Homo sapiens: one gene and its partner. The protein of the gene in region 1 binds, or shares a complex with, the protein of each later gene. Each region holds a gene or a part of one and is shown on either strand. Other genes may lie near its edges.

Region 1 (7,439 bases):
AGTCACAAAGGCCTCCCTGATCAAGGGAAGGACTCAACACCATGTCCTGACAGCGGGTGGCAAGGTAAGGTTCCAGATGAGGACATGGGACCAGAAATTTATTTTGTGTCCATTTTCAGAAAATGTAATCCATCATAGTAAGGAATCAAGGCAACCATTCTCCATAGCTCGTGTGTACGCATGTGTACATGTAAGTGTGCATGTGTACATGTAAGTGTGCATATGTGAGTGTCCATGTGTGCATGTGTGTGTGCATACATGTCTTGCTCCAGTTCTCTCCTCTGGTCACATGACCTTGACCTCTGCTTCATCCTCTGTCTGTGCTCATGGCCTCAGTTATTCCTGCCTTCTCAGAATCCCCCGCTTCCTTTGGGAACAGCTCCTCCACATTACTTCTTTTGAGAAACTTCCTCCCCAGGTGTTTTTGGCAGGACTGTCCCTCAAGCCACCCATCCCTCCTGGGCAGCAGAGGGGTGGCACATGACTGAAGTTGGGCCAATCCAACTCTCTCCTGAGAATCTGACTTTAGTGGAGAATCCCAGGTTCTAGACACTGGTCACAGCTCTGTCAGTCCAACTCAGCCTCTGAGGCATCCATTGCCCAGTTCTTGTTCCCAGACTAAAAGAGCCACCTTACCAGTGCCTTCTGTAGACTCTGCAAGCATCCTGCAGTCTTCCATTAAATACTGATAAATATGTGTATTTAGTTCCAATTCCACATAGAGGCTTTGCAGCCGTCTGACCTCTCCCACAATTCCAGATGGCTGGTGGCTGAGCTGGGAAGAGGGCTGAGATTCAAACCAGAAATGATCCCTACAACCTTCTCAGACAAACGGCATCATTGCAGGCTGGACAAATGCTCCAGATGGTGCCTCCTTTATACACTGCCATTTAATGTCTACAGTGTCCACACCCCCATTTTACAGAGGCAGTAACTGAAGTACAGAGAAGGCAGAGCTCAGATTTCACAAAACTCTGTCTAACCCCATAGGGTTTGCTCCTTCAGTAAACCTCAGAATCTCCTCAAAAGTCAGGTCCCCAACTGCCCTCCTGGAAAAGCAGCCCCAGCTCACTCTGAACTGGCAGTGGCTCAGATGATCCTGCTAAGGCTGAGAGACGGAAAAGAAAGTGTTTTTGGTGGCAGTACATTAGAGTCACAACTGCTTTGCTGTCACCGTAGATTGACTGGCTCCAAGTCATGCAGCCTCTCATGGCAAACAAATGCTGTTAAGATCCTGCGCCAGAGAACAACATTGACAATGAGGGAAAAGATCAATCCTCTATTTACAGACTTAAAGATCCTTAAATCAAGCCTGTCATCAGAGCTGCCAAGGACTCTGCCTGTGTGACCAGATGTGCCCTTCCTCCCTGGACGGACTCCACGCTGCACATGGGACCACTGGGCTCATCTTCAGAAGGGCCCATGCAATTTGGTGACAAATCCCACCAATTTGTCAATACACTTCTTCCAAGTTTAAAAGCCAGTCATTGGAGGGATTGTTGGCAAATAAGGAAGTTGCTATAGATGCAAAATGTCAAAGCATGATTCTGCTTTCCCAACGCTTTCTGGATGCTACTTCATGCTCGGCCCCATATGAAGCACTTAGCATGCATTGTTTCGTTCGCTCTTCACGTCAGCCCGAGGAGATGGATATGACCATTGCCCCTATTCTACAGAGGAGGCAGCTGAGCCTCAAAGAGGCTAACTCACTTGCCACAGCCACCCTGCTAATGCTTAAGCCACACTAGTCAGGTTGCAAATAACTTTATGCTTATGCCCAATTTTAAATAGTACAAAAGATAAAAGGATTTCCTGGCTCTTGAAACTGAAAAGTCCAAACTTGAGGGATGATTTGACTCCCAACATAGTCATCAAGAGCCTGATTTCTTCCCAGCTTTCCTGTCTGCCTCATCAAGGGTCTACCACTCAGGGCAGCAAGATGGCTGCAACAGTGCTATCCACACACTGTGAGTCCAGAAGGGAAGGGAGAAAAATCTCCTTCCCCAGAATCCTTCAGCAAACACCTCCAGGCTCAGTGGCCCTAATTGGGCCTCCGACCACCCTCAGCTGTGCTCAACGCATACAGTGCCAGTCGTGTGTCCTTTGGAACCAGGGATGTCTCTGACCTCCCCAAACTCCAGGATCATAGTAAGGGAGGAGACCACCCCTCATATTGTCTTATGCCCAATTTCTGCCTCCAAAGAAAAAAGTAGTAAAAACTAAAAGGCAGAAATGAAATCCACAAGCAGACAGCCCAGCGCCACACCCTGGGCCTGGTAAAGATTGACTCCTGACCTAATTGGTTGTTTGCATAAAAAAGGCACTGTGAAGATCCCTGTCCTGTCCTGTTCCGTTCTAATTACCTGTGCATGCAGCCCCAGTCACATACCCACTGCTTGCTCAATTGATCATGACCCTCTCACGTGGACCCCCTTAGAGTTGTGAGCCCTTAAAAGGGACAGGAATTGCTCACTTGGGGAGTTCGGTTGTTGGAGACGTGAGTCTTGCTGAAGTTCCCTGGCCGAATAAAGCCCTTCCTTCTTTAACTTGGTTTCTGAGGGGTTTTGTCTGCGGCTTGTCCTGCTACAAATAGGGGGAATAAAAGCCAGGGTTGCTTCCAAAGAGAGCAGGGAGTGAGTGTTGAGGACAGATCATCACAACTGTGCAGTTGAGGAGCATGATTTGAACCCAGGTTTGTCTGTTCATTCAAACAGTATTTATTGAGCCCTTGCTTTGGGTCAGGCACAATTTTATATGCTGGAGACACAAACCTAAAAGGACCCTAACCTAAAAGGCAGACCCCACAAACCTAAAAGGCAGAACAGCTGCCTTTCAAAGCTAAAGTCTCGCATTTTTAAAAGGCCTTGGAGCTGCATTAATGTTCTTCTAATTTTTCTAGGTATGAATCTTCATACTTTTCTAGGTATGAATCGACCCTGTGACACCAGGATGGTTCTTTGTCAGCCTCCTTGTCTATAAAATCAGAAATAATGGTACCTCCCCCAATAAGTTATGTGAAACAAATTAAAGGGGCTTATTATACAGGAAACAAAAGCAGCACAGCATCCAAACTACTGAGCGTGCAGTAAATCAACGCATTCCCACTTCCATTCCATCCACGCTGATTTAGATCAATCCAAGTATCACTGCCTTGGGGTTCAAAAGGCCATGTTAGTTCACAAAGCCCCGAAAATGCTCTTTCACACTCTCTGCTCAGCCTCCAACGTGTCTTTTTAATAATCCAAACTTTCCACCTACTTAACTGAAGTGTGTGGGGGGAGAGGGTGCGGGGGGGAAGGGGTGGCCTATACTAAATAGCCCAACTGTTTTCCACTTGTCCTGAAATCTGAGACCAAGATTCTCTTAGGAATGCAAGCAAAGGGAGCCGACGGGACGCCAAGAAAGCACAGGTTAAACTACCTCACTTCATCTAGCCCCATTTCTCTCCTGGCTTTTCAATTAATTATTCAGCCTCAGACCAGCAGATGGAGCTGAAAATGTTGTCTAAAGAAATGAGGTTTTTCTTTTAATTTACAAGCTATAGTTTCTCATGCCTCCACACTGAATGGTTACATCCTGTTGAGCCTGTTCGTAAAGTTCAGTAAAAATCCAGTTCTCATTCCAGAACAGCTGAATCGTAGCTATGAACGCGGAAGAACAGAGTCCCAACCCCAGCCGGGCCCGGGTTTCCCGGGGCCCCTCAAGCCTCAGGGCAGTGGAGAGCCGCCGTCACGCCCCCGCCTCCCCCACGTCCCACCCTCGCCCCAGTCTCCTCCCACTTTTAGCTACTTTTCCCATCTGACTAAAACTGGCTTCCTCCGTGTCCACCAAGATGTCGCCTCTAAGTGGCCTAACTCCTAAAGAGCGCGATCGGCTCAAGCACTCCGCCACGCGGTTTCCACGGGGCGCGGCCGGCGTTGCCCTCGCCGTGGCCTCAAGCATTGCGGCGCCCCACATGTTGCCAGACGGAAGGCCTCGGCGGGGTCAGGCAGCTGCTGCTGGCCGTGACTACATCACTGGTGACGTTTCACGAGACTTTTAACTGAAATCACTCCAATACAGGCGCATGCGGGACGAGGGGAAAGCATCTCACCCGACCCCACACACCTTCCCCTCCCTCTCCAGCCTAGCGGCCTCCGCTCAGCGGAAAAAAAAGCAGACGCTACTCCCCGCTCTAGGTGCGGGACCTAAGAGGTTTGGCCCAATCAGGCATCCCACCTAACCAGACGGGCCGGAGTCTGTGGCCCGGTTGGACCAACGAAAACTCTAGGGCGGATTTGCCGGGATTTCTGGGAAAGTGACACTCCCGGAAGCTACCGCCTCTTATAAGCCACACATGGGCGGAGTTAGCCTTCCGGCCCGCAGTCCCACTGGCTGACTTCGCTGCCCGTCACGGGAATGCGGGAGAGGGCGGCGCCGGGGCGCTCGCGTCTGCGTGGAGACCGGCTGGCCGCGCGCGGGAAGCCGCGGAACTGCGCCGGAAAGTCCCCCGGCTCTGGGGCCCCGGTGACCCAGAGTAAGCCTCCAAGAAGGAGGAGGAGGAGAGAAAGGCGGCTCTTCCCGTGCCCCTACCAGAGGCTTCGGTGGGCCCACCTTGTGACCTCCGCGGCCGGCCCCTCAGTGGAACTGCGTCCCACGCGGGGGGCGTCCCGACCGTGGGGGCCGCGGCCCGCGCTGACCCTGGACGTCGCCGCGCAGGTACGTTGCCGTCCCCCGGCGGTCTGACCCCCGAGACAGCCCCTAGTGCATACCCCACGCCCTCCTCCATTGTCGAGAATGAGACACGGCTGTGCCTTTGTCCACGTGGTAGAGTTGCCGCCGCGGTGAGGCTCTCGCCTGTGCAAAAAGCGTGGCAGCGAATTCTCATCAACGAGGGGAGGCGCGTCCCCTCACAGCGCAGCTCTCGGGTCTGAGGAGGGCCGGGCAGGGCGTGCGTCTGTCTAGGTTTGAATTAAAGGCGACTCACAGGAAATAAGGCCATGCCACTGTGGTAGCTTTTCCCGTCCATCTCCGGACACTCGACGGTGTGGGTCGTGCGAGGAGGCGGCAGTCTTCACAGCCTCTTACTCTAGTCCTCACGGTCAGGTTCTTTTTCTGATTTGACACAGACAGCGGGACTGACGACCTCATAGGTAGCTGAAAACCGTAAGTGGAGATGGTCCTTCTATGGTGTGTGGGGGCGTGGCCAGTTGTTAGATTGTGTTTGGAAAGACAGCCAGGGGCGGAGAAGAGGGGCATTTCTGAGATGATGGGGGGACTGGTGCCATGGAGGGAGGAGGAGTGAGGTGGAGATCGGGAATTCCAGCCAAAGAGAAATGGGGTCCCTGGGAGAAAATTCCCACTCTAGCAGTCCTGGAGTTGTGCTCATGGAGACTTGCTTACGCGAGTACAAGGACAGCGTTGTATTGACAAAATTTCAGCCCTCAGTCTAGTCTTGTAAACGATAGATCAGGAGTGTACTTAACCGTCGTTACTTTGATCCAGCCCTAGGTTTCCCTTTTCTCATTTGTAAAATTGTTATAGTAATACCTTTTTCATCCATTTGTGGTAACATTTAAATGAGGTAATTTGTGTGAAGCCCTTAGCAAACACAGCGCTTCTTAGTCGTGGGTTCCGCGTGGGGTGGATTCAACCAACCTCAAATCAAAAATATTCTTCAGAAAAAGAAAAATGCGTTTGTACTGAACATGTAGAGGCTTTTTTTTTCTTGTCATTATTTCCTAAACTATACAGTATAACAACTATTTACATCCCATCTACATTGTATTAGGTATTATAAGTTACCTACAGATGATGAAGGTATATAGGAGGATGCTGCGCATAGGTTATATCAAACAGTACACCATTTTATCAGGGACTTGAGCATCTGCAGGTGTTGGTATCCTCGGGGGTCCTGAATCCAGTTCCTCACAGATACCGAGGGACCACTGTACTCAGTCCAGAGTACAGTTGAGGCTTAACTATGAGGTCTGTGGAGGGCGTGGAAAGACCCACGTCTGAAATTGGCTCTTAACTGCTCATTTTTAGGACAGCTTCCCTCCCAGCCAGCCCTTTACCAGAGGCAATGCACCATCTTTGCAGCCGTTATAAGTACCTGGCTCTTTCCAGCCCTATGTGGAATGTTTTATTTATTTCATAAGCTAATCATTATAAAAAAAAAAGTCTTTTTTTTGAAATGAAAAAAAACTGTTCACTAAGTTTGTAAGTATAAACTATTTTAGTAATGTCCTCTATTTTAGTAATGTCCTCTTTTTTTTAAGTGAAATATTTTAATTATGGAGAAAAGAACATAACAGTTGTACCTGTACCCTGAAAAAAGTAAATGTCAATTTTTTAAATGCTTTTGGACTTTTTTATTTGGGGGACAATGTGACATTTCAGCTATAGTTCATATTCTGTGTCCACACACCCAAGAGCTTTGAAATCTAACATGCCTTTCTGTGGAGGCACTGTGACTCCACAGGACTTATCTGGTGGATGTTAGTACCTGTGTAAGCTGGGTGTCCTCCCTTCTAATCCCCACTCACCCAAGAGGTTTGCTGCTTCTAGCTTATCATGGGGATTATGGCTGCCATTTTGATTCTGTCCTCATGTCATTTGTGTTTCTACCCTCTTAAGAAACCTGCCTTCTCTGCCTTCCCAGTTCCTCCTGAGTGAGCTCATGATAGACTTTCCTAGACTCAGCAGCTGACGAGCATTTCATTGGTTTGGTTGGCCTTTATTGGGCCAGTGACCACTCTTCCCTTCAACATGGTCCACTGTCTTTACCAAGGGGCTGTCATGTCTGTTGCAAGCATTCAGGAAAGAGTGGCCTTCCATACTCAAATGTACTCTATTTTATAAAATGTGATTTTAAAAATTCGTGGTCCAATCAGGCCTCCTTATCCTCTGGGAATTGATTCCAGCAGCCCCCCTAGCCCCACAACAGACCAAATCTGCTGATGCTCCAAGTCCTTGATATAAAATGGCGTTAAGGCCGGGCATGGTGGCTCATGCCTGTAATCCCAGCACTTTGGGGGGCCGAGGCAGGCAGATCACCTGAGGTCAGGAGTTTGAGACCAGACTGGCCAACATGGCGAAACCCTGTCTCTATTAAAAATACAAAAGTTAGCCAGGCGTGGTGGCGGGCATCTGTATTCCCAGCTACTTGGGAGGCTGAGGCAAGAAAATCGCTTGAAGCTGGGAGGCAGGTGTTGCAGTGAGCCGAGGTCGCGCCACTGCACTCCAGCCTGGGTGATAAAGTGAGACTGTCACAAAAACAAAATGGCATAGCACAGTCAGCCCAACGTATTTGCAGGTTTCGCCCTGAGGTTGGCTGAATCTGTGGATGCAAAACCCTCAGATATGGAGTGCTGACTATAACTAAATGTTTTTAAACTAAACACTTAAGGTATACTATCTCAGTTTGCCACAGTGGTAATCCCATCTTAACAGTGAGC
Region 2 (7,032 bases), on another chromosome or scaffold:
CCTCGTGATGCACCCACCTCGGCCTCCCAAAGTGCTGGGATTACAGGTGTGAGCCACCACGCCCTGCCCATAATGTCATTTTCAAACTAAGAAAATTAACAGTTCTCCAACATGATCCAGTAATCAGCCCATGTTCAAGTTTCCCCATCTGATTTTTTTTTTTTTTTTTTTTTGAGACGGAGTCTCGCTCTGTCACCCAGGCTGGAGTGCAGTGGCACGATCTCGGCTCACTGCAAGCTCCACCTCCTGGGTTCAAGCCATTCTCCTGCCTCAGCCTCCCGAATAGCCGGGACTACAGGTGCCCGCCACCATGCCCGGCTAATTTTTTGTATTTTTAGTAGAGACAGTGTTTCACCATGTTAGCCTGAATGGTCTCAATCTCCTGACTTCGTGATCGGCCTGCCTCGGCCTCCCAAAGTGCTGGGATTACAGGTGTGAGCCACCATGTCCGGCCCCCATTTGATATTTAAAACAAAAGTTTTTATCTTTTTTCTTTCAATTTAAGACCCAGGAAGATTCACATTTTGTATTTGATGTGTGTCTTCAGTGGGCCTTTTGTTTTATTTTTCATGACATCAACTTGTTTTGTTCAATGTTAAATTAAATCTAACACTGATTAAATTAGTGCTGCGATGATTACATTAGTAGGCACTTGATGAGGTTATCCCTTTTATTGCTGATGTCAATTTAATCACTTGTTCAAGGTGCTAACTATCAGATTAAGCACACTCATCCCTTGGTATTGTGGGGCATTGGCTCCAAGAGCCCCAGAGGAAACCAAAATCCATGCATCCGCAAGTCCCATAAAATCTTGTCATATTTGCATGTAATCTACTCACATCCTCCAATATACTTATTTATTATTATTTTTTTAGTAGAGACAAGTGTCTTACCATGTTGTTCAAGCTGGTCTCCAACTCCTAGGCTCAAGTGATCCTCCTGCCTGGGCCTACCAAAGTGCTGGGATTACAGCCTGGCCAAAACTAGGGTCCATATACCTTTTTTTTTGGTGTTTTTTTTTTTTTTTCCCCCTGAGGCAGTCTTGCTATGTCACCCATGCTGGAGTGCAGTGGCACAATCTCACTGCAGCATCAAGCTCCTCAACCTCCTGGGTTCAAGCTATCCTCCCACCTCAGCCTCCCGAGTAGCTGGGACTGTAGGGTCACACCAGCACACCCAGCTAATTTTTGTATTTTTTGCAGAGATGGGGTTTTGCCATGTTGCCTAGGCTGGTCTCAAACTCGTGAGCTCAAGCCATCTGCCCACCTCAGCCTCCCAAAGTGCTGGGATTACTGGCCTGAGCCACCATGGTTGGCCATAGAGCTTTTTTTATCCCCTGATTTCCTGTCCGTGTCATTATGTTTTCCTTTTTCACTCAGAACCATGATTTCCTGACTGCAATGGTCTGTGAACATTTTTCCCCTTACAATAAATATAATACATACTCACCAGATAAAAATGTAAATACTGATGAGGAAAAATTGTAACTAACATTTTCGGGGCTCTTGTGGGTTAGGGACTTTATACTAACTCATTGAAGACAGACAGTAGCCTGAGAGAAGGTAGGGTTTGGGTTATCCTCATTTTGCCGGTGAGGAAAATGAAGCTTGAAGTTAGACTAACTTAGAGTCTTAAGCTAATAAATGGCAGAGTTGGTTTTCAAACCAGAAATAACTTGTTTATAGTACCCTTCCAAAGCCTTTTCTATACACAAATATATATAAGAATGGGATCATATTGTGACCATCTTTCCATGTCAATAAATGGACTTCAACAGCATTCTTTTTAATCCAGTGTCCTTTTGTTTCCTCTTCTCCCGGCCTTGTCCCCAGGATCGACGAGAACGTGCTAGGAGCCCAGCTGGACGTTGAGGCCGCCCATTCAGAGATCCTCAAGTACTTCCAGTCTGTCACCTCCAACCGGTGGCTCATGGTCAAAATCTTCCTCATCCTCATTGTCTTCTTCATCATCTTTGTGGTCTTCCTTGCTTGAACCCTCTCTACTCTGAGGCACTCTGTTGGGGTTTGGGACCCTCCTGGGAAGGCAAGTGGCCAGTGCTGCCACTGAGCCTGTGCAGGGTACTTGGGAGAAAGGCCCTGTTTCCCTGGAACTGCTAAGAATGACCACTGCCCCTGATCCCCCACCCCTTGCCTCTGGCCACCCTGTCCTCCCCCCACCACCCTCAGGCCTATGAAACACACAGGGTTCTAGATTTGAACTCTGCTGTGAAGTGACTGGAAGGGAGCAGAGGCCAGCTGGGGGCCAGTGGGGGAGGTTGTTTCCACTAGGAGATTTTTATAAACCCTCTCCAGCCTCTCCCAAAGGAAGCGTTGGCAGCAAAGGGAGATGATGCCCTTACCCACCTTCCTGTGAGTGAAGAGAGGAAGCAGCCCCAGGGACCAATTTTCCCAATTGACCTCTTTCTTCCTCTTTCACCATGTGAGGCAGGGAGCCCTGAGCCCTTCAGCTGCCTGCACAACCCCTGACATTGGCTGCTGGTGACTCAATCTGCCAAATGTGCTGCAGCTCGTTTTCTCCCAATTACAGCAAGACTGTCAGCCTCACTAGCCATGTCATCATTTCTGGGTGGGAGCGTCGAAGGGCCTAGGCAGCGAGTGGAGAGAGCCCACTGCCCAGTACCAGAACTGAAAGGGTTGGGCTAATGGCTCTGCCAGGTATCACTGCTGACACAGGCTATTTTGGGCTCTGACACACAGCTGCCTCTAGGCAGGGGAGAACCAAGTGTTGCAACACTTCATTAGCGTGGAAACTTCCTTTCACACAGGGGAGCAGGATCCCAGAGGGGGTCCCTGATTGGGGGCAACTTCCAGGACTATCTCAAGCAGTGTTTGGACCTGTTTCATCTGTATCCTCCAACTATTTGGCCGTAATTCTTCCTTGAGCTAAGCGAGGCAGAAGCTCTGCCTGCTTCCAGGAGTGGAAGGTGAAGAATTTGTTCCCAACTCCAGTTGAGGCTTTTGATTCCCTCCAAGCACTTCACCAAATCAAAGCCAGTCACAGAGAATGGAGACACCTGCCCAGAATACCCACCGTCCAGGGAGATTAGTGTGCTTTGTTCTTCCTGACCGAGACTCACAACCACATTCTGAGGTCACTCGAGTGCCCCTGTCTCATACATTCCAAAGGAAGTTGAAGCTATAGAGACAACAGTCAGGGGCTGGTGGTGGTGCTTTTGGGGGTCTAGGAGAGCCCAAGGCCCTGATATTTTAAAATGTCCTCCTCGGCATCTCCAGCAAGTTGCCACTGCTGGTGAGCTTCACTGTCTGCCCCGTTGACACGATGGGTTTCTAGTAGGGGACGCCATTGATGGAAGGTCTGTGAAGACAATGCTCGCCAAACCCCTGACAGATGTCGTATCATTTGACTCAGCAACTCAGGGCGGGGCGGGGTGGGGGAAATTCATAACACAAATTCATTTATTTCACAAATATATGTTGAGTTTTTACCATGTGCCAGGCATAGTACCTGCCGAGTCAAGCCCTCGAGGAAAAAAAGCCCTTAATTAGTCAACGTTCGAGCTCACATTCTAATTCTCAACTTCGTGATTTGTTAATCCATCTTATAGGCGAAGAAAGCGAGGTATAGACAAGGAGCCGAGCTGAAACACTGGCTAGATTCCGGTAGGGGTCTGAGCCATCACTCCCACCTGGAGGCGCGGTCTCCATTCCTCTGAAGCCCTTTGTGCGGCCCCCTTCCTCACTGAGTTCTGGGCTGCGGCGGCAGCACTGTGCTCTAGCACTAACTCTGAAGCTGCCAGGGCAGCGTCAGCGGACAGATGAAAAGGTGCGGGGACATGCTGGCTGCCAGCCGGGGTTCCGCAAGTTCAGGTCTTGGGCGGGGCGTGGAGGGCCAGGCCCCGCCCCTCGAACGACGGCCTTAAGTGTGCGCACGCGCAGGGGGCCGCGCTTTCTCCGGGCGGCGGCACCGCCCACAGCCTGGGACGTCAGCGGCGCGCGACGTGCTTTGCTGTATAAATGCGGTGGCGCCCGGCGTAGGGACACTTCGGTCCTGAGCGCTTGGGAGTTAGGTTGTTTGCCGGCGTAGCGGCCAGCGCCTGAGCCCGCCCTTGATCTTCGCTGTGGCATGGCGGACGAGGGGAAGTCGTACAGCGGTAAGTGCTGGTCTTCGGGTCGGGAACTGGCTATCTGGGGCGCGGGTGGGCGGCGCCGGCCTAGGCCTCAGCCCCCGGGGCGTGAGGCCGCTAGGGGCCCGGCGTCCGCGGGGAGCGGCGCGCGGGGGGCCGGGCACTCGAGGTGGACACCCGAGTTGTTGACTCCTGGATTCCTGCTGGCATCCTGGTGTTGGGGGACCTGCGGCTCGGAGCGGATGGCTCGGGGGTAGGGTGACGGGATTCCTTTGAACTTTGTGGGTGGTTGATGCCTGTCAGTTAGGTTTGGCGGCCTGACTCTTCCTTTAATGTGAGTGAGTGCCCTGCTCGTGGGCTGCCCTGATGCCCTATTTTTTACTGCGTCCAGTCGGTCTTGAACTCTCGGGCCTGGGCTTTGGCTTAATATTCGAGACTTACACATCAACTGGATATTCTAGTCTGAACACTACACTGGGTGTTAGTTCTTTGTAGTAAGTTAGGAGTGCGTGGTGGAGGTTGAAACCGTGAATTTAAAACTCTCGTTTTCCACCCCCTTAATGTGGAATAACAACAGCATTTCTTAAGAGTGTGTGTGGGGAGGGGAAATGAGATCATTCCTATCAAGTGCCTGAAGCATAGTGGCCGGCACTGGAGAAAGTTCTCAGTGAATGTTAGCTGCGCCTTCTATGTTCTTTTTTCCTAGGGTCATTTGTTGAGATTCATTGTTTACAGAGTGCTGGGTATTAGGCAGACCTCTTTTGGGAGTTAGGGACCTTTTTTAAGACGCCAGTCCTACACAGCATGAATCAGAAGGTCATCTTCCTGGAGAGCATTCCAGGGTCCCTGGTTAAGCACCCTAGCCTGGCACTGCCACTAGAGCCTGAGTCTAGAATTTGTCTCCTGAGTTAAAGGACATTTCTGGCCATGGAAACGAAGAGCTCCTCACAAAACTTCAAAGTGGCAGTTTGAGAACAAGGAGAATTTTTAGAGGATCCTTAAACTGGTCATATTTGTAACTGGCGTCTGCACTGTATAGACAAAGTACTGAGTGGCAGATTTCAGGTGGCTTTCAGAGGTCTGATTTGTGTTCAGTTACACTTTTGGGTCTCACATTTCTACATCCTGCTTCTCTCTAATTCCAGTTTCTACTTCATTTTTCAAAAGCCCTACACAGTTTTCCAGTAACTTTTCCCTGATGCTGCCCTCCCACAGAGAGGGTTCTTTCCTGTGGATAGGGAGCGGAGTTTGCATGGAGATGGCCTCTGTCGTTAGTATGTATCTCTTCCAATAGTTCAGAGTACTAGAAGCTATGATTGCCACACCAAACCGGACCAGTTACTTACTTCTAATTTGTGTTCCTGTTTCTAACTCTAGAACACGATGATGAACGCGTTAATTTCCCTCAAAGAAAGAAGAAAGGCCGGGGTCCCTTCCGGTGGAAATATGGTGAAGGAAACCGTAGGTCTGGAAGAGGCGGTTCTGGTATTCGGTCTTCCCGCCTTGAGGAAGATGATGGAGATGTGGCAATGAGTGATGCCCAGGATGGTCCCCGAGTACGATAGTGAGTGACCAGTTGGTCTGGTTTGAATTTAGTGGCTCATGAGATTATATGGCCCTTTTACTGTCCATGTCATTTCCTTTCCCACCTGTTAGAGTGAGAAATGCCAGGACTAGCTTAGTGATTAAACAGTCTTAGTTGTAGTCCCACTAACAGTGCAGGAAGGCCTTTGAGAAGACTTTCCTAGCATTTGTGGTCATTTTATTCTCTGCTTACCCACAGCAACCCCTATACCACCCGACCTAACCGTCGGGGTGATACTTGGCATGATCGAGATCGCATTCATGTTACTGTGCGGAGAGACAGAGCTCCTCCAGAGAGAGGAGGGGCTGGCACCAGCCAGGATGGGACCTCAAAGAACTGGTTCAAGATTACAGTGAGTACTTTGAGAAAGTAGATGGTACAGTAGAGATAGGAGGCCACGCTGAGAGTGGAGATGTTTAATTTTATTCCACAAAAATTATTATTATTATTTTTTTTAAATGGAGTCTTGCTCTGTCACCCAGGCTGGAGTACAGTGGCGTGATCTCGGCTCACTGCAGCCTCCGCCTCCCGGGTTCAAGCTATTCTGCCTCAGTCTCCCGAGTAGCTGGGACTACAGACACCCACCACCACGCCCGGCTAATTTTTGTATTTTTAGTAGAGACGGGGTTTCACTGTATTGGCCAGGCTGGTCTCGAACTCCTGACGTCATGATCTGCCCGCCTTGGCCCCCCAAAGTGCTGGGATTATAGGCATGAGCCACCGCACCCAGCCCAAAAATTCTCCTTGTCATCTGATTACTCCACACTCAAGTATCTATCTTTTCTCCTAGGAATCAGTATCTTCCAACACCTTAGAGCAGGTTCAGAGAAGGGGTGGAAGAGAAATATGAAAATTTTGGTTGGGGGAGGGAGTAATTCCTCTGGATGTCTTCATTTGGCTCAGGCTGAGTGTGGGGCTTGGAGTCCCTGGAGTGCCCTGGAGTTCTCTGAGGGGCAGGCAAGGTGTAAATAATATCTTGGAACTTTTAGAATAAATAAAATTGATTTTTTTTTGAGAGATTATAAGTGTAAATGGGCTGGGTACAGTGGCTCATGCCTGTAATCCCAGCACTTTGAGAGGCCGAGGTGGAGGATCACTTGAGGCTGGGAGTTCAAGACCAGTCTGGGAAATACAGCAAGACCCCTTCTCTACAGAAAATTTTAAAATTAGCCGGGCATGGTAGTACATGCCTGTAGTCCTAGCTACTCCAGAAAGCTGAGACAGGAGGATCGCTTGAGCCTAGGAAATGAAGGCTGCAGTGAGCTATGATCGCACCACTGCACTCCAGCCTGAGTGACAGAGTGAGGCCCTGTTACTAAGAAAAAATAGTAAGTGTAAGTAG

What was found.
Region 2: the proteins of NXT1 (region 1) and NXF1 are in contact, whole or in part, in a crystal structure (PDB 4WYK), measured with the Homo sapiens proteins. Residues at the interface, in NP_037380.1 of Homo sapiens: Phe6, Lys7, Val10, Asp11, Cys14, Glu18, Thr44, Val46, Trp47, Asn48, Gly49, Asn50, Ala51, Phe61, Met64, Leu65, Pro66, Ile72, Ser73, Val74, Val75, Asp76, Cys77, Gln78, Pro79, Val80, His81, Glu83, Ala84, Thr85; in NP_006353.2 of Homo sapiens: Ala366, Pro367, Thr368, Thr369, Leu370, Pro371, Pro372, Cys373, Lys374, Gly375, Tyr377, His411, Gly413, Cys415, Cys416, Ser417, Leu418, Ser419, Ile420, Pro421, Phe422, Arg440, Asn441, Val442, Lys443, Lys444, Lys446, Pro448, Thr449, Arg451.

Annotation. Positions count from the first base shown.
Region 1 is NC_000020.11:23,346,364-23,353,802, forward strand, and holds the start of NXT1 (NTF2-related export protein 1), read left to right. Parts: upstream 1-4,427; 5' UTR 4,428-4,698; intron 4,699-4,966; exon of another isoform or gene 4,967-5,104; intron 5,105-7,439.
Region 2 is NC_000011.10:62,802,429-62,809,460, reverse strand, and holds the start of NXF1 (nuclear RNA export factor 1), read left to right. Parts: upstream 1-4,020; 5' UTR 4,021-4,104; coding exon 4,105-4,132; intron 4,133-4,371; exon of another isoform or gene 4,372-5,303; coding exon of another isoform or gene 5,304-5,379; intron 5,380-5,482; coding exon 5,483-5,669; intron 5,670-5,888; coding exon 5,889-6,042; intron 6,043-7,032. Other genes in the region: STX5 (syntaxin-5), read left to right, coding at 1,833-1,992.